Linked DNA regions of Homo sapiens: region 1 is linked to region 2. A link means that fine-mapping ties the variant in region 2 to the expression of a gene that starts in the linked region. Tissue or cell type: whole blood. Region 2 holds a variant in brackets; the other region holds the start of a gene. Each region is shown on its reference strand, or each on the opposite one.

What was found. PIP is the estimated chance that this variant, and not a neighbour inherited with it, causes the effect. A credible set is the group of variants that fine-mapping cannot tell apart.
Region 1: THAP3 starts here. The variant in region 2 is the best candidate, but not a certain one, in a credible set for the expression of THAP3 in whole blood (TOPMed, PIP 0.51).

Annotation. Positions count from the first base shown.
Region 1 is chr1:6,619,476-6,629,105 of GRCh38, reverse strand. It overlaps THAP3 (THAP domain containing 3), which reads right to left and starts at 4,238. Exons shown (of 6, transcript NM_001195753.2): 1 at 4,152-4,238; 2 at 3,814-3,956; 3 at 415-607. The coding sequence starts at 3,887. It overlaps PHF13 (PHD finger protein 13), which reads right to left. Exons shown (of 4, transcript NM_153812.3): 3 at 8,769-9,303; 4 at 5,076-7,695. The coding sequence ends at 7,469. RefSeq lists a silencer at 3,438-3,847.
Region 2 is chr4:17,461,571-17,471,200 of GRCh38, reverse strand. No RefSeq gene overlaps it. Among named protein-coding and RNA genes, the nearest start is that of QDPR, 46 kb to the left of the region's middle. RefSeq lists an enhancer at 1-469. The variant G/A (reference allele first, on the strand shown) is at 5,331.

The DNA of each region.
Region 1 (9,630 bases), not on the chromosome of region 2:
TTCAGCCTCCCAAGTAGCTGGGATTACAGGTGCCCACCAACACACCCAGCTGATTTTTGTATTTTTAGTAGAAATGGGGTTTCAACATGTTGGCTGGGCTGGTATCGAATTCCTGACCTCAGGTGATCCACCCACCTCTGCCTCCCAAAGTGCTGGGATTACAGACGTGAGCCACCGCACCCAGCCATAGAATAATTCATTTTTAAAATGCCTTTAATTTATGACTTCTCTTAAAGCCGAGGTCATGGCCAGCAGGGCCACAGGGCTGTGGACCCCAGAGGCGTGACAGTGCTGTTGTCACTGGAGTTCTTGGCCTTGGCTTTTCCCACACATGCCGCCACCCCCACTGCCCCCAGCTGCTGGTAAACAACGCAGGCTGGATGTGACCAGACGGAAGGTGCAGTGCCCTCCTACCTGTGTGGGGTCCTGAAAGGCGAACACCGTGGGCACGGCATTGTGCTTTAGGTTCTTGCGGTTTCCAAAGGCGCTGAAGCACTCTGGCCGGAAGTGCTCGGAGCAGATGACCGTGTGCTGCTTGGGCTTGAAGTTGCCCCGGCCGATGTTCAGCACCCATTCCTTCAGCAGCTCCGGGCGGCTGAACGGAAACCTAAGGGCAGAGGCACGGGGTGTGAGGCCCAGCAAGGCTGGACCCAGCGCCTCAGAGTCATTCGGAATTTTCACATCACTACAGAGTACTTCCCTGGACAGCTGTGGACATTCAGTCCTCTCGGTTTATTAAATCACATCTAATTTCTGGAAGCTTCTGTCACAGCTGTTAAAGCACTCTTAATAGGAAACCCGAGACCACGAGCATGGCCAGAGAGCCCAAGTGAGCTGCTTCCGATGCTACATTTGCCAGGAGCCTACCAGGAGCCGGGCCCTGTTCTTCGTGCTAGGGATGGGGGGTAATGAGACAGTCCTGGCCCCCAAGAGCTGATATTCTGGAGCGGGGGCACAGTGATGAGCCACACAGATGTGGACGGTGTCTTCTGGGGATGACAGCTGCTCCAGAGAACAGACAGAGGGAAGCCCTGGGGTGGTGAGGAGAGGCAGCTGAAGGGGTGATGTTTGAGCACAGACCGCAGGAAGTGGCAGCACAAGCGACGCAGGCTTCAGAAGGGACAGCAGGAACGGCCACTCACGCAGGTCCAGCTGAGACAGCGAGAGGGAGTGGGGACTGCATGACGCAGGGCCCTGAGCAGCTGGGGAGTCCCTGGAGGCTCTAGACAGAGGTGAGATGGAACCTGGGTCCACCCTGGCTGCTGTGGGACCAGGCATTGGCAGGAAGTGGTAATGAGAGGGCAGACTTGGATGTATTTTGAAAGCCATGCAGTAAGGTTTGCCTGTAGATGGTAAAATTGAGAAGGAAGGAGTTTCATGTTGGAGATAAAATTAAGTTACAGGACGGCAGGTTAAGGGGATCAGAAGTTTGTTTTGTAGCAGCTGAGCATGGTGGCTCACGCCTGTAATCCCAGCACTTTGGGAGGCCAAGGCAGACAGACTGCCTCAACTCAGGAGTTCAAGACCAGCCTGGCCAACATGGTGAAACCCCATCTCTACTAAAGATGCAAAAATTAGCCCAGCGTGGTGGCGCACTCCTGTGATCCCAGCTACTTGGGAGGCTGAGGCACAAGAATCACCTGAACCAGGGAGGCAGAGGCTGCAGTGAGCCGAGACTGCGCCACTGCACTCCACCTGGGCAACAGAGTGAGAGTCTGTCTCCAAAAAAAGAAGTTTGTTTTTTATGTCAGGAGTTAAATTTGAGGTGCTTTTTAGGCTCTCCATGTGCTGGGGTGACAGGCGGCCACACGCATCTGGAGATGTCAGTGTGGCGGCCAACCCTGCGGAACCGATAAGCCTGGGTGAGATGGGCCCCTGGGGAGCAAGTGTGGCTAGAAGCCACCCCTGGGCCATGGCCCACACCCCAGGGCTCCAACACTTAGTGCTGGAAATAAGGAGGATCCAGCAAAGGAGACTGAGAAGAGACACCTGTGGCCAAGAAGTGTACCAGACGCCATGCGGGAAAAGTGACCCAGGCTCAGGGGTCAGTTGTGTGAAATGCTATGCAATCGATCAGTGTCACAAGGCTCACTAGTGATGTGACAGAGCTCTCGTGGGAGTGGAGGAAACGACTTCAAGAGAGAAGGCGCAGCAACTCCATCCCCAAGTACATACCTGACAGAGGCAAAACAGATAGATGCACTGCAACACAAGTCCCACCAAAACTGGCCAAAACAATGTTTGTTTTGTTTTGTTTTTTGAGACGGAGTCTCGCTCTGTTGCCCAAGATGGAGTGTAGTGGTGCGATCTCGGTTCACTGCAAGCTCTGCCTCCCAGGGTCAAGTGATTCTCCTGCCTTAGCCTCCTGAGTAGCTGGGATTTCAGGTGCGCGCTACCACGCCCGGGTAATTTTTGTATTTGTAGTAGAGAAGTAGAGACGGGGTTTCACCATGTTGGTCAGGCTGGTCTCCAACTCCTGACCTCAGGTGATCCACCCAGCTCGGCCTCCCAAAGTGCTGGGATTACAGGCGTGAGCCACCACGCCCAGCCTCCAGAACCATGTATTTGTCATCCAAAAAATGGGGCCACCCAAATGCCCTTCAATTGTAGAACAAATCAGTAAATTCTGGCACTTGCATTCAATGGAATATTATGTGGCAACGAAAGCGAATGAACTGCAATCCACTCTGATAGCGGGCAGGATAGGGTTCCCTTTGGGCAGGAGAGAGGAGGAGGGCCTGGGAGGGGGTCCAGGTAGGGGTTCTTCTCGGGGGTAGTGATGTTTTATTTCTTATTTTGAGATGAGGTATCGCTCTGTCACCCAGGCTGGAGTGCAGTGGCAAGATTATAGCTCACTGCAGCCTCGAAGCTGGGTTCAAGCGATCCTCCTACTTCAGTCTCCCGAGCAGCTGGGACTACAGGGGCACACCACCTTGCCTGGCTAATTTTTTTAAATTATTTGTAGAGGTAGGGTCTCCTTCTGTTGCCCAGGCAGGTCTCGAACTCCCAGGCTCAAGCGATCCTCCCGCCTCGGCCTCCCAAAGTGCTGGGATGACAGGCTTGAGCCACCGCGCCCAGCTGGTAACGTTTCAGTTCAGTGACGTTCACTTGGGGAAAACTCGCTGGGCTGTATACTTATGATTCGTGCATTTTTCTGCATGTACATTACGTATACTTCAAGCAAAGCATTTATCACAAAACAGAACAATGGGAGCAGAGGGAATGGGAACGATGAGCACAAGCCCCCCTTCGGAATGTGCCCAAAAGTGGGTAGAGAAATGGTGCCGTGACTGGACCTTGGAGAAAGCGCAACTGTGACTAATGACGATTGCTCCTGGGCCGGGCCGGGCCGGGCCGGGCGAGTGCTGGAGCAGACTCCAAAGTCTCCAGCGTCCTCCCGCGACCCTGCAGAGTCCCTTCCCACTGCCAGGACGCCCCTGGGGGTTCCACTCCTCCACTGCACTGCCCAGGTGCCGGGCTCCCTTCAGGACCGCGCGCGGCGGGGGCTGCAGCGACCAGGGACACAGCAAACCCCGGCCGCGGCCCGCTAGTCTGTTCAGCAAACACCTGCTCCGCTCCCTGCACGTCCCGGCCCTGGCCCCGCCAGGTGCGCCGCTGCCCCTCCGTCCGCCACTCCCCGCATCCCCGCGGCGGGCGCGGCGGCGCCAGCCCCTCTGGGCCCAGGACCTCGGCCTGTCCCCGGGCCCAGCGGCCGCACGCCTTTGGGCCTCCCGCCCGGCGCGCCAAGGCCTCGGAGTCGGTCCGCGGGCCCCGGGTCTGGGCCTCCCGCGCCCCCGGGTCCCCGCCTCTTACCGGTGGAAGGTGAGCTGCTTCCTGCGGCTGCTGTAGCGGTTGCAGCACTGCCGGGCCGCGCACGACTTCGGCATCTCGAGCCAGGCCTGGCTGCCCCCAACAAAGATGGCGGCGGCGGCGGGGCCTGCGGAGAGGGGAGGGACCTGCGGGGAGGGGCGGGGCCGCTGGGAGGTGGTGACGGGCCTGGCTCGCCTCCAGGGCGCGCTCATCCTGCCATCCCAGCCACCCGCGTCTCCCCAGGGTCGGACGGGACCCGGGGCGCCACGTAAAGGGGTGCTCCGGGCCCCAATTCAGGCCCGAAACCCCAACTCCTAGCCTTGGGCCTGTGCAAGTCTTACCCCATTCGCCAATGCTGGTCGCCTTTCACCTCCTTGCTTTGAGCACCCAACCAGGACGCATAGCCACTCACAGGCTTGGACAACTGGAAACCAACGGCCAACCCCTCAGTGTTTTTAGGGCTTTGAATTGTGAATAGGTCTGGACTCCTCTGACGTCACTGGAGGTGGTACTAGTTGGCCACTGGTGGTGTCAGTTCAGAGGCCAGACAGCTCACTGCCCTTAAGTTTGGTCACAGGGAACCCCCAAACGTGAAGAGGCAAAAAGGGCAACTGAAGGGGAGGGAGATTCCAGTTCAGGCCTTGCAGAAACTCCGAGGCTGCAGCTTTCTCAAAGCAGCCTATAGGGAAGGCGTCATCTTGTAAGAAGAAAAAAAAAAAAATCGGCCAGGCGCAGTGGCTCACGCCTGTAATCCCAGCACTTTGGGAGGCCGAGGCAGGCGGATCACCTGAGATCAGGAGTTCAAGGCCAGCCTGACCGACATGGTGAAACCCCATCTCTACTAAAAATACAAAAATTAGCCGCACATGGTGGCGGGCACCTGTAATTCCAGCTACTCGGAAGGCTGAAGCAGGAGAATCTCTTGAACCCGGGAGGTGGAAGTTACAATGAGCCAAAATCTCATCACAGCACTTCACAGCCTAGGTGACAAGAACGAAACTCAAGTCTCAAAAACAAAAAAAAAATCAAAAGTAGGCTAACCACTCACTGGGGCTTGAGCTAATCCTCAATCTGATGAAGAAACTGCAAAAACCATTCACATCTACTCGTCCTGTGGTTTGTTTCTAAGGAATTCACCAGCAAGGTACCTTAACACCGTGGGCATTTTCCATCCTGCTAAGTGCACACTGAGACGCTGCCTTCCCAGAGACTTGATGTAATCATGCTTTGGGGAGGTAGCAAGGAGAAAAGAAACACAATTGTCCTTCAGCACAGAACGCAATCGCCTGAACCTTGAATCATGAACCTCAAAGTAGCAATATATTTATTTACAAAATATACAGTTTCACAGAAACAGCTTCGCTTTATACACATAAACTTTAAAATTACACAGAACCATGTAAACGATGTGAAGTGTCTGGCCTGGCCAAAGCCAATGGGAGGGCCTACTTTTGGGGTGACATCCCTCCCTCCCCTCACTTCATTAGCCACCAACCAGGAACCACAGATGGGTCGTGCCTAATTTGCATATAAAGAAGCTGATTGCAGCTGCCCAGCTCAATCTAACACAAAAACCAAGGTGTCCGACTTCTTAGACACCACCCACAGGGACAGATCTGCTAAAAGAACAAAAATGCAATCAAGGAAACAAAATGGAGATGAGTATCACATGCATTCCAGAGGCATCGAACCTTCTAGCACACGTGACAGTTGCCAGGGCCGGCAGTTCCATTCTAAAGTCACATGGATTCTTAAATGCACCTTTAAAAGCTTGTGGAATTTTTTTTTTTCAAAGCAGAAAAACACTTTGGAGCGCTGGTTATTCACGTGGTGAAGACACTGGACAGGCGTTATCTCAGGGTAGATCTTTGGCAAATTCCTCTCCAATGCGTCCTGGCTGTTTGCCCTCGTCAGTTTCTAAACCAGCTTACTATTTTTCTCTACCGAACCTCCCCCTTGGGGATCTTCACAATAAACTGGCTTCAGAAACTATTTCTCTCTAGTTTCGTGTTAATACAAGCAACAGAACTTTTAAAAAAATAAGACGGTTGGACAAGTGTGAAAGATACTAGGACAAAAAAAATGCCTCTGATTAGCCAAATTACGGTTCAAGCCCCTTGGTGCTTCAGTGGGAGAAGGTGGGAAGAGTCTGCCTGGTGGCCTGGCACAAAGGTGCCACATGAAGGGGAAGCCCCCAGCAGTGAGAACGCGGGCCCATCCCACTGAAAACAAACATGACTTGCTTGAGCATTCTTCCCTTTCCATGCCTTAAAGAAACAATGCTTATGAAAACCTACCAATCAATTAGAAAATGTTTTGAGAACAAGTACTTGAACTGCTGAAGAGCAGTGTTCATTTCAGAGAAAGCCGGAGCCCCTCTCCCTCCCAGCCCCAGAACTACCAGTGTTCCAGGGCACCCTGCCCTCGAGCAGAGTTCTTCCACAGCCTCCGGCATCAACTCCCAGGTTTTTCCAGAGCTGGCCCTCACAGGGGCCTCCCAGGTCCAGGATCCCAGCTGAGATTTAAGGAACTCGGCACAGTTCCAAGGGGTCATCCTGAAGGCCCATGTTACCCTATCACTCACTCACCAACTCAAAACAGAAAAAGAAAGACTCAAGTCCTAACTGTACCCTGTGGAACCGGCAGGCCAGCCTGTCTAAAGGGCACACAAGAGTCACCCAACGGAGAGGGCTCCCTCCCAGCTCTCCTTTACCCTATTCTTTGGAGGAACACCATGCGGGTCCCAGTGATTGCCTAACCTTTATGCTGCTACCAGAATGAGGTGAAAGGAAGAGACAAAGACAGAACCTATGAGTTCCCACACTCGCAAACAGCTGGCCTGAGCCCACCAAGACCTCACACACCAACTAAGAGGGCACTCAGCAAGAAATCAGCCAATACTTTTGGCTGTATCGTGCAAAAAGACAGGGTTTTTACATCGTGCAAAACAGGAAACTGAGTTATGAACACGGGCCATCTCAACCCCCCAACCAACTCCCTTTCCACAGAGAAGTGGCCACATTGTCCCTTTTAACAAACAGAAGGAAACCTAAGAACCACCAGCTGACCCGCCAGCCCAGCGCCCTTCCAGGGGAGCCCGAGGCCTCCCGCCAGTGCCTCCCCCAGCCGGTCAGGCAGCAGCTGAGGCAGGCAGAGGGCAAGCCACTAAGTAGGGGCAACTTGGATGGCTGCTGTACAGACACTTTTGGTAAAAGACTTAACACTCAAGAAAAAGCTTACACGTATGGCTGTTCATTAACAGGCTGGGGAAACCGAACACCTCTCCCCAACACAGTGGAAGCAGAATAACAGCTGGCACTGAGCCCAATCAGCGGGAATCTCTTAGCAATGATAGCAAAACGCACAGCTACCACGGACCCTCATTTTCAAATGAGCCAAACCCGCTGCACGTGGGTGTCCAGTCCACCTCCACTGCAGGGAACGCAGCTCTGGCAGCAGCTCTGGCTGGCAAAGGTCGCATTCGGTCACCGGCTATGTACAGTTTCTACCTTGGACAGCCTGTCCTTTTGCTTAGGCACCTAAATGGCAGGGATCTGCCCGCACCAGAGCTGAGGGTTCTGTGCTCAACTAAGAGAAGGGCAAAAAAGCCCGCGGTCGCTTCCGATTCCACGCTCGCAGCCTCCTCGCCAGCCAGCAGTCAGTCCAGGAACAGCTTCCGGGAGCCCGTCCGCGAGCGGTTGGAACGGCGGATGTCAAACTTGGAGTCCCGGCACTTTTGGCAGACAAACACTTCTGGAACATTGGATTTCCGGATTTTCGCACAGGACAGGTGAATCCAGGTGTGGCACTCATTACACTCGATCATGGGGCGGCCGGCAAATGGCTTCATGCAGAAGCAGGTCACGAGGTCCCAGGAATCGTCATCTGGAAGGAAAGATACTCTCAAGGAGGGAAGAGAAATTCCCATCATTCCTCGCCATCAGCTGGGCTTCCATGAAACCCATTAACTCTACTGACGAGAACACTTCCAACTGCCACTCGAAGCTGACACTTCTCTCTGAAAAGGCACGAGGGGCTCCAAAATGTGTGGGAACCAGGTATTACCCAGGAGATGCTTACTTTTTTTTTTTTTTCCCTAAGACAGGGTCTCACTCTGTCACCCTGGCTGGAGTGCAGTGGTGCAATCATACCTCACTGCAGCCTCAAACTCCTGCAGTCAAGCCATCCTCCCACCTCAGCCTCCCAAATAGCTGGGACTACAGGCACACACCACCACACTCGACTATTGTTTTTTTTTTTTTTCTTGAGACGGAGTTTTGCTGTCGCCCAGGCTGGAGTGCAATGGCGCGATCTTGGCTCACTGCAACCTCCACCTCCTGGGTTTAAGTAATTCTCCTACCTCAGCCTCCTGAGTAGCTGGAATTGCAGGCGCGCACCACCACGCCCAGCTAATTTTTTCTTTTTTTTTTTTGTATCTTTAGTAGAGTCGGGGTTTCACCATGTTGGTCAGGCTGGTCTCGAACTCCTGACCTCGTGATCTGCCTGCCTCGGCCTCCCAAAGTGCTGGGATTACAGGCATGAGCCACTGCGCCCAGCCTTTTTTTGTATTTTTGCAGTGACAGGGCTTTGCCATGCTGCCCAGGCTGGTCTCCAACTCCTGAGCTCAAGCAATCCACCTGCCTTGGCCTCCCAAAGTGCCGGGATTACTGGTGGAGCCACCGTGCCCGGCCTGGATGCTTACCTGGATGCTTACTTAGAACTATACCCTTTTTATGTTCTAAGGTCTTAGAATCTCAGCTGTCTCTAGTGGCAATCAACCCCTTCCTAAACATCTCGATATCCACATTCCTGCAGCTTTTCTCCTCCTTGGACAGTGGGGCTGTCACACTCTACGGAAGGCACCAGACCCTGTGCCCCAGAGAGATGACCACTTAATAAAATAACCTCTCTTCTAACCACAAGCCAACAAGGGTCATCATCCTTCAGGGACCACTCACCTGAGTCCACCATGATGTCCTCATCATTGCCAGTGCTGTCCTCATCTCGGAACACCACCTGCTTTCCCTGCCGGACGATAGTCCGTTTGCCTTCAGTTTTTATTTCTTTGACCTGATCAGGTGACACAGTGGCACAAGATCCACTCGAGGGAGTATCGGAGTCCCAGCCCGAGCAGGGGTCGCTGGGAGCCTGGGGGATATCCTGCAAGGTGGGACTCGTGGGGGTCTCCACGTAGGGGTCAGCGGCTTCCAGCTTCAGCAAGCCCCCCCTGTACCCCTCTTTCCCAGGCGCATCACTGTCCCTGCGCTTCCTCTTCTTCTTCTTCTTCAGCTTGTCCGTTTTCTTTCTGTCCAGCAGGAAGTTACTGGGCTTGGCTCGCTGCAAGAGAGTAGGCTGCAGGTGGCTAAAGCAGCGGTCAGAGACTGGCAAGGGCACTGAGGACGCGATGTCTGAGAAACCCGCGTCCCAGCCGTCGCTGTCAATGGTACCAGCAGTGCTGTTAGCAGGGCTGGGGCTGCTCCTTAAAGGGAGTTCCTAAAAAGACAAAGGTGGCAGATTCCAGTTACTGGTGACAAGATCCAGCCCAGAGCAGAGCATCCCCAGCCACCCAGCCATGTCAGACCTCCAGAGACATCTGCACAACTTTGAGCTTCTCTGCCCATCAGCATCACACTTGAAGCAACAGTAACATGAGTTCTGGCTGGGCGTGGTGGCTCACACCTGTAATCCCAGCACTCTGGGACGCCAAGGCAGGCGGATCACCTGAGACCAGGAGTTCAAGACCAACCTGGCCAACATGGTGAAACCCCATCTCTACTAAAAATACAAAAATTAGCTGGGCGTGGTGGTGGTGCCTGTAGT
Region 2 (9,630 bases):
GCTCAGTATCCATCCTGGGAGCCACATTCTCCTCCTCCCTTTCTGTCTTGAGTGGAGACACGGGGGTCAGAAACCACGTTATCCACAACCACTCTTACTCCCCACTCATCATCCCGTCCCTCGCCTCGCCCTGACAATTGTACCCCCTAATTATTCCTTGAACCTGCCCTCCTCCTGCCTCTGCACTCCACCTTCCTCCATTGCTTTAGCCCAGCCATTTCTCTCCTCTTCTCCACCTTGATTCAGCTAACTCCTCCTAGACCTGGCATAGTCATCCGTTCCAGGAACCCTTATCTGATAAAATCCCATCCCTTTGCCCAAAGGCTGGGCTGGGTCAGGTGCCCCTCCTACCGACAGTTTCCTGTGTCGTCATTGGCCACCTCTTGTGCCTCGCCTTGCATCCTCCCTGCCCACATTTTATTCCAGTCATGGCTGGGGCCACCAGCTTTGAGCAAGTGCAAGCTGACCGCATGTCCCTGGCTGTCCTGCCTACCTCGCTTTCTGCCTCTGGGCTTGCCTGACATTGAGGAATGGGATGTCTGCAGAAATGTGCCAGGCACTCACACATGCGCAAACCTGGGAGGGTGGAGAGTTAATGCTCCAAGGGGCAACACACTTGACCACTGGGAGACGGGCTGGTGGACGAATGTTCCCCTCCTGTCCTTCTGACGATGTGTCAGAATGAGGCACATCACTCTTCACCACTCCTTAGACAGCCTCTAGTGGCATCATTCCCAGTTACTTAGAACGTGATGCAGCTTGGTATGAGGTTGCTGCAAAAGTCATTGCGGTTTTTACCATTGAAAGTAATACCAGAAACCGCAATCACTTTTGCACCAACATAATAAAATGTGTGTTGGCTTTCCCTCCTGCCCTGTTTCACTCTTCCTATGCCCCTAGTCCCCAACTCTGCTTCCGAGGACCACTTCCTTAAATAAATTAGTTCATACAATCCCTTATCTTAGGTTTTGCTTGACTTGAGAGGGACACAAGCTATATTTAACTCAAACACTGCCTTTGTCAAATTAAGAGTATAATAGTTACTTGTTTATATTTCTGTCTCTTCACTCAACTACAAGTTCTTTAAAGCAGGGACTATGCCTCCTTTGTCATCCAAGTAATGCATAATAAGCGCTTGTTAAGTGAATGGCTCAGGGGTAGAAAGAACAGGCTGCTGGATGAAGCTGGAAACCATCATTCTCAGCAAACTATCGCAAGGACAAAAAACCAAACACCGCATGTTCTCACTCATAGGTGGGAATTGAACAATGAGAACACATGGACACAGGAAGGGGAACATCACACACTGGGGCCTGTTGTGGTGTGGGGGGAGCGGGGAGGGATAGCATTAGGAGATATACCTAATGTTAAATGACGAGTTGATGGGTGCAACACACCAACATGGCACATGTATACATATGTAACAAACCTGCATGTTGTGCACATGTACCCTAAAACTTAAAGTATAATTAAAAAAAAAAAAAAAGAAAAGAAAGAACAGGCTGCATTTACCCTTGGCAGCTAAAGTGCATGGGGCATAAAGCACCCTTAGAAGATGCTTTTCATGCGTTACCTCATTTAATTCTAATTTAATTCTAGAGCAACCCTAGGAGGTAAGTGCTGTTATTATTCCCATTTTAAAGATGAGGAACAAGTTGAGAGAGTTAGATATCTTTTCTTTCTTTTATTTTATTTTTTTGAGATGGAGTCTCACTCTGTCTTGCCCAGGCTGGAGTGCAGTGACATGATCTCGGCTCACTGCAGACTCTGCCTCCCAGGTTCAAGTGATTCTCCTGTCTCAGCCTCCCGAGTAGCTGGGACTACAGGCGTGTGCCACCACACCTGGCTAATTTTGTATTTTTAGTAGAGACAAGGTTTCACCATGTTGACCAGGCTGGTCTCAAACTACTGACCTCAGGTGATCTACCTGCCTCAGCCTCCCAAAGTGCTGAGATTACAGGCGTGAGCCACGGTGCCCAGCCGTGAGTTAGATAACTTACCCAGAGCCACACAGCTAGAGGAAAAAGCATCAGAATTTTGAACTCTGGTCTATCTCATTCCCAAGTTGGCCTCTTATCAACTCAATTAATTATTGGGGAACTATGGAGCTTGTTATCATTACAGGATAAAGTGCTGGCGGGGAGTGCATGGAGGAGAGGTGTCTTCGTGGGCAGGGGCTGCATCATGAAGGATCTCTGTCAGGTGGTTTTTATCTTTAGGCAACGGGGAACCTCTGGAAGCTTAAAACATTTTCTCATTGTGAGCCTTTCCAAGTGTCCTGGCATTAAAAATAAATAAATAAATAAATAAATAAATAAATAAAAATACAAGCAGTTTGAAGAACTTCTGCAAGGGGGCAGGCATTGGCAGCCGATGAGACAATTCGTCTTGGAAAACTAGCGTGGGAAACTTGGTTCAGTTTTCTTTGCCTAGTGGGGCCTCTGCTCAGCCCTGTGAGTGGATCTGAGATCGATAAGTCACCCCAAGCACTGGAGACCTGCTGCTGTTCACTTTGCCTTTCGCTCCTTTCCTGCCTTCCTGTCTTCTTCCCCTCACCCTTTCTCCCCTCATTTCTCTGGCTTACTTCACAGAAGTGGAAATAGGTTCAAAAATGTGTAAGTTGGTGCAAAAGTAATCGCGGTTTTTGCCACTAAAAGCAATAGCAAAAACCGCTATTACTTTTGCACCAATGTAATAGTAGCAGCTTCCTAAACATCGCCAAGTTTGCAACATCGTGAAAGCCCAATCCACCTTCAAACAACAGCACACAAACAGCAACAGTCATCGCAACAGCAGTGTAGACCTCAGTATGTCCGCCAGCCATGGGAAAAGGTCTGTGCCCTGCCGTCACGTATCAGGAGTCCCTGTACAGTGTCCGTCCCCTCTGCACACTTTGGAAATGGTTATTGATTCCAATTTAGGCTCAGGTGACATTTGCTGAATACCTACCATGTATCAGGCTTGGTGCTGTGAGATTGAGCCTATGTTATTTCATTGAATCTTCATACTCATAGTTTGAGCTAAGTCAGATTTTCCCTGTTTACAAAGGAGGAAACTGAGTATCAGAGAGGCTAAGGTCACCGGATTGGCAGGTCATGAAGCCATATTTAAACCAGATTTTTGAACTTCTACTGTAGTGTTCCTGCCTTTAAACCACACTGGAGTGGTTGGCTGATCCTCTCTCTATGTGAGTGTGATTCAGAGTGACCGACGGAGGGTGGAGGGAGACGTGAAGCAGCTTTTTTTCTTTGATGTCATCCAGGCTTGATGCGTAGATGCTCCGGAGGGAAAAAGAGGAGTGGAGAGAGGTTGTCATTGCTCTAAACTTCAGCTTTCTGACTCCATGTACAGGGTGGGGTGGCGTGGGGGGTTCAAGCTGGAGAACTCAGGTAAGAGGAATGGGTTTAAGGGCCCAGGGAATGGAAACCCTTGGCTGACTCTCTGCTCAGCCACCGACTGTCCTGGGTAATCCTGGTGGACAGCAGAGGGCTGCGGTCCAACAAGAAATTCTATGGAACCCCTGTACAGAGGAGAGTGCTAGGGAGCAGGAGTTTCAGAGTGACCCGCTCAAGGCCATCAGTGGAAGAGCCAGGCGTGGAACTCTGGTTTCCCATCTTGAGGGCCTTGAGCGTCCCTTTGCACCAGAATTTTCCAAAGTGGGATCCACACTGTGCCCTCGGGGCAGGTGTACCGGGGGTATGGGGAGGGACACAGGTGAACGCTTCTTATTTAATAATCATAAACAACAGAGTCTCGCTCTGTTGTTTATTTTGATGTGTATTAGGAAAATACATAGCAACCACATCAAAACCATGAATACATGGATATTATTGTGAGGATGAGGATAAGTAGACAGTGCATAAAAAATAAACATTACCTGAGGAATACACTACATAATGTAATGTATATAGTGTATTAGCTTCCTATTGCTGCTGTAACAAATTACCACCAACTTATTGGTTTAAAACAATACAAATTGATCATCTTATAGTTACAGAGGCCAGAAGTCTTAAAATCATGGTGGCCGGGCACAGTGGCTCACACCTGTAATTCCAGCACTTTGGGAGGCCAAGGCAGGCGGATCACTTGAGCTCAGGAGTTCGAGACCAGCCTGGCCAACGTGGTGAAATCCTGTCTCTACTGAAAGTACAAAAAATTAGCCAGGCATGGTGGCTCATGCCTATAGTCCCAGCTACTTGGGAGGCTGAGGTAGGAGAATTGCACGGACCTGGGAGGTGGAGGTTGCAGTGAGCCAAGATCGTGTCACTGCATTCCAGCCTGGGCAACAGAGCGAGACTCCATCTCAAAAAACTAAACCCCAAAAAACAAAAACAGAAGTCTTAAAATCAAGGTGTTGCCAGGGCTGCATTTCTTCTGAGGGCTCTAGGGAAGAACTTGAGTCCTTGCTTTCTCTAGCTTTTAGAAGCTGCCTGCCTTCCTTAGCTTAGGGCCCCATCCTCACAACACACCTGGTTTTTCTGAGTTTGACCCTTCTGCCTCCCTTTTATAAGGAGCCTTATAATTACATTGGGCCCTCCTAGGAAATCCAGAATAATCTCTCCTTTTCGAGATCCTTTTAATCACATCTGCAAAGTCCCTTTTGCCATGTAAGGTGCCATATTCACAGGTTCCGGGAATTAGGACACAAGCATCTTTCGGCAGTTATCATTCTAGTAGACATGGTATGAATATGTGGTGTATGGGGAAACTCAGGCAGCTCATGTTTGAGTGATTGGAGATTGGGGAGTTCTGCTTTACACTCCAGCTGCCTCCTTATGGGCCATTTTTGGACTTGAAGTTGGCTTTCTTGGGATCTGTGTAGGTGCAGGCTTAGGCAGAGGAAAACTTTGCTATTTGAGAGCATACTTGCCTGTTCATGAGGGCTTCTATGGGAATGTCTTTCGGAGAGCTGGTAGACCTGGAATCAAATTCGGGGGTTGAGGCCACAAAGAGCGGACTGGCTCTGCATAAAAGTGTGAGGAGAGAGCAAAGGAGAATGCATAGCTTTGCTGAGGTGGTGGGAGGCAGAGGAACTCTTAAAGAACAGGGTGTCTGATATTTAATCTGGAGTTATTTTCATTCTTGCCATGGAACTGCTCCTTTGTTTCATCTCATGCTTGGAAAAAATCTATAAAAATGCTGTGTGTGTGTGTGTGTGTGTGTGTGTGCCTGTGCATGCATGGGTTGAAAAAATTACTGGCCTCCACTGGTTAATTTTTTTTTTTTCTGAGTCGCAGCCCAGGCTGGAGTACAGTGACATGATCTTGGCTCACTGCAACCTCTGCCTCCCGGGTTCAAACAATTCTCATGCCTCAGCCTCCTGAGTAACT[G/A]GGATTACACATCCAGCTAATTTTTGTGTTTTTAGTAGAGACGAGGTTTCACCATGTTGGCCAGGCTGGTCTTGAACTCCTGAGTTCAAGTGATCTGCACGCCTCAACCTCCTAAAGTGCTGGGATTACATGTGTGAGCCACTGTGCCCGGCCTGGTTAAATTTTTTTTTTTTTTTTTTTGAGATAGAGTCTCACTCTGTTGCCCAGACTGGAGTGCAGCGGGGCAAACTGCAGTCTCGAACTCCTGGTCTCAAGTGATCCTCCTGCCTCATACGCCCAAGTAGCTGGGACCACAGTTACGCATCACCACACCCAGCTAATTTTCTTGATTTTTAGTAGAGAGGAAGTCTCACTATGTTGTCTAGGCTGGTCTTGAACTCCTGAACTCAAGTGATCCTCCTGCCTCAGTCTCCCAAAGTGCTGAGATTATAGGTGTGAGCCACCGTGCCTGGCCCACTGGTTAAAATTTTTATCCCTGCCTCCTTGCTCCCTCCTATTAAAGGAAAGGCTGATTTCCTTATCTGTATCTTGAGGGACAGACTGTGATGCATAGGCTGAGTAGCTAGGCATAGGCAAAGGCAACTGTGAGAGTAAAGCATCGCAAATATCTCAGGGGAGGCTTTGGTCTTCCTCAGCATTATCTCAGTTAATCCTCACTGGGACCTCTGAGACCCAGATAAGTTGGTTTCACAATGGACCAATTGGGATTTTAGTTACATCTGTGGGACTCTAAGGCCAGTTCTGGAATTTGTTGTCTTGGACAAACATACCTGTTTCCTGCTTTTTGGAAACAGGATAGTCTCAATTCTCACCTAGACCTCATTGCATTAACTAGATCCTCCTGTATCAATTTTAATGAGTCTTCCCTTAGGGCTTTTCATGTGTGGAGAACTAGGTGGAGTGGCAAAGATAAACAAAGTCAGACACCAGTTAATGTGGTATGGACAGATATTAATCAGTAATACAGTGGTCTTCTCTTATCTGAGGGGTTATCTTCCAAGACCTCCAGTGGATGCCTGAAACCACAGATAGTACCAAACCCTATCGTATTAGTTTTCATGCTGCTGGTAATGACATACCAGAGGCTGGGCAATTTACAAAGGAAAGAGGTTTAATGGACTTACAGTTCCACGTGGCTGGGGAGGCCTCACAATCATGGCGGAAGGTAAGGAGGAGCAAGTCACATCTTAAATGGATGGTGGCGGGCGAAGAGAGAAGAGAGTTTGTGCAGGGAAACTCTCCTTTTTAAAACCATCAGATCTCATGAGACTTATTCACTATCATGAGAACAGTACGGGAAAGACCTGCCCCCAGGATTCAATTACCTCCCACTGGGTTCCTCCCACAACATGTGGGAATTCAAGATGAGATTTGGGTGGGGACACAGCCAAACCATATCACCTATATACTGTTTTTTTGATCTGATAACCCAGATTGCTACTGAGTGACTAGTGGGTGGGTGGCACAGGCAACGTGAGTACCCTGGACAAAGACATGATTTACGTCCAGGTCAGGAAAGAGTGGGATGGTGTGAGATTTCATCATGATAGCCAGAACAGACATGGAATTTACAACTTGTGAATTGTTTATTTCTGGAATTTTTCTTTTTATATTTTCAGATCACAGTTGCTGGTAACTGAAACCAGAAAGCATAAAACCTCAGAAAGGGGTTAACTACTATATACTATTGAAATAGGGAAGAAGGTCAGGTGTAAACTCAACTTTGATTTGTACGGAGGTGACCGGGCATTTTAAAGGGAGACTGGAGTAGGGTGGGGGCAACTGGGGGCTCATTTGAGTCAGAGAAAAGACAAATTACAAAAAGTAGGAAGAAAAGATTGGTCCATGTGAAACCCATCTGGGTTTGTTGCCTGGCTCTTATTGAATGTAGGTGGGCTCCTACCCTCCCACAGAGACTGGGAGACAGGCTCTGTCCTCAGGTTGCTGGAACAAACAGTACATTCTTTTGGCAACCTGGAGTTTTCTCAGGCAGGCACTTTAAGGAAGCTGGAGTTGTCCTAGGGATATGGCTGAGCTGTTAGAAACTATGTTAGTGTTTGCTCAAGTCTTTCTAGGCCATGCCTTGAGGTCTAGTAGAGAAAGGGCTCAGAGGGCCCTGGCTAGAGTTTGGTCGAGGACAGAATCTTGGTCAGGAGTGTGCTACAGTGTGTCAGGTGTGGTCCTGCACTGTTCCCAAAGTGTGTTTCTTAGAACACCATTGTGCTGGGATGGTAATAGGTGTCCATGGAAAAAGAGGTCCATAAGTAAGGAAAATATTGAAAGTTAATCCATTATCTATCTATCTATCTATCTATCTATCTATCTATCTATCTATCATCTATCTATCCATCCTCTATTTGATAGATAGATAAAACTTCTCAGAGCCTCTAATATATGCATTGGGGGTCTCCAAGAGGGAGATTTCATTAGGAATCAGTATCTAGAGAAAATGTATGCCTGGCACAGAACAAGTGCTCTGTGACTGTGTGTGTGGCATGAATGAATGAAGCAGTGAGTGGATATTAGAGACGATGGACTGCAGGAGTCTAAGAGAGGAAAGAAGGAAAGAAAACTTACTGCATCAGTGAGTAGCTCGGGACTCTGGTAATGAATGATCAAGTAAAAAAGTATGAATATTTACTTTTTTTTTTTCTTTTTTTTAGACAGAGTTTTGCTTTTGTTGCCCAACCTGGAGTACAATAGTACGATCTAAGCTCATTGCAACCTCCACCTCCTGGGTTCAAGCAATTCTCCTGCCTCAGCCTCCCGAGTAGCTGGGATTACAGGCGCCTGCCACCATGCCTGGCTAATTTTTGTATTTTTAGTAGAGACGGGGTTTCACCATGTTGGCCAGGCTGGTCTCAAACTCTTGACCTCAGATGATCCGCCCACCTTGGCCTCCCAAAGTGCTGGGATTATAGGCATGAGCCACTGCACCCAGCCGATTATTTACTATGTTAATAGCTACTATTTATTAAGCAACTACTATGTGCTGGGCATGATGGTAGATGCTTTCTTCTATTATCTTTTTTAGTTAAAACAGATCAAGAAATATAATTAAACATTTAGGAGGGTTTTTGTAGGCTTGGTTTATAGAAGTAATCACTAAAAGCAATTGTGATAATCTGACAAAGACTTAAGCTTACCTGTGGTCATAATAGGAAGGGCTAAAGACCAGCTAACCCTCCAAGCCACTTGAAATATTAGTAATTAATGGCAGAGTGTTATGCATAATTAGACACTAGTAGTGTGCAGCTTTTTTTGAAATGCAGCATTTACATTGGACGTCAATCTTTGCTTTCGTCAGGAAACCACCAGCGTACTGTACGTTGTTAAATGAAAGCAAGCAGCCAGGTTAAATTCTAATTAAACATTACCATTGTTATTTGAAAAATAACAGCTTAGTGTTGGTGTCAAATTGACTTTTATCCACGAATGGAATTAGAACATTTTGTCATTTTAGGCTGTCTAATACATGTGAATAACACTTCCTGAGAAGCTGTCTTTGACTTTAGTTAAGTTGAAACAAAGAGAATTAATATGGTGAGGATGTAAATGAGGATGTCATTTAGCAAAAGAAAAGGATTATGTTGTATCTGTTTTCCTTTGAGCCTCTACCGGTGCTTTGTAAGCAGGCTGGACATTTTTCTGGACTGTGAATTCCAAATGTAGCTCCTGTTACTGCATGGTGGTTCAGTGGGTAAGCTGTTCCCGTTTGCTGCGTGCAACTTTCCCAAACCAGCTGTCTGAGCAGGGAAATGAGTGGGCTTTCCCAAGGGGCAGAAGGATAAAAGAAGAAAGAAAACTTTGAGTTTTAAGAAAATGTGTACTGAGAATGAATGTATCAAGAACTTGTTAGGATAGAAAGTAAATTTAAGGCAGAATTGCACATATATAAAGCTGGTAGGGAGGTGGCACGGTGGTGGGCATTGAGAACCAGACAGACTGATTGACTAGTTATTGATTAAGTTCTCCTATGTGCCAGACCCTGGCAGTCACTGCCTTTGAGAATCTTAGATTTCAGAACTATGAGGAAGACCTACAATTGCAATGGGATTGTGGAGTGGACAGCACAGTGCAAATCTCAAATCTTTTAGTTTCTACCTATGTGATCTTGGACAAATTATTTCACCTGTCTGATTCTCATGTTTTTCATTTGTAAAATGGGGGCACTAGCCTCAACCTCACAGATTTATTGTGAGGATGAAGCGAAATACTACATTAAGAGATCTAGTATAGTGTCCTGAATACACATAGCCCTCAGTAACCTGCTAGTGTCCTTTGTCTTAATACCGAAACC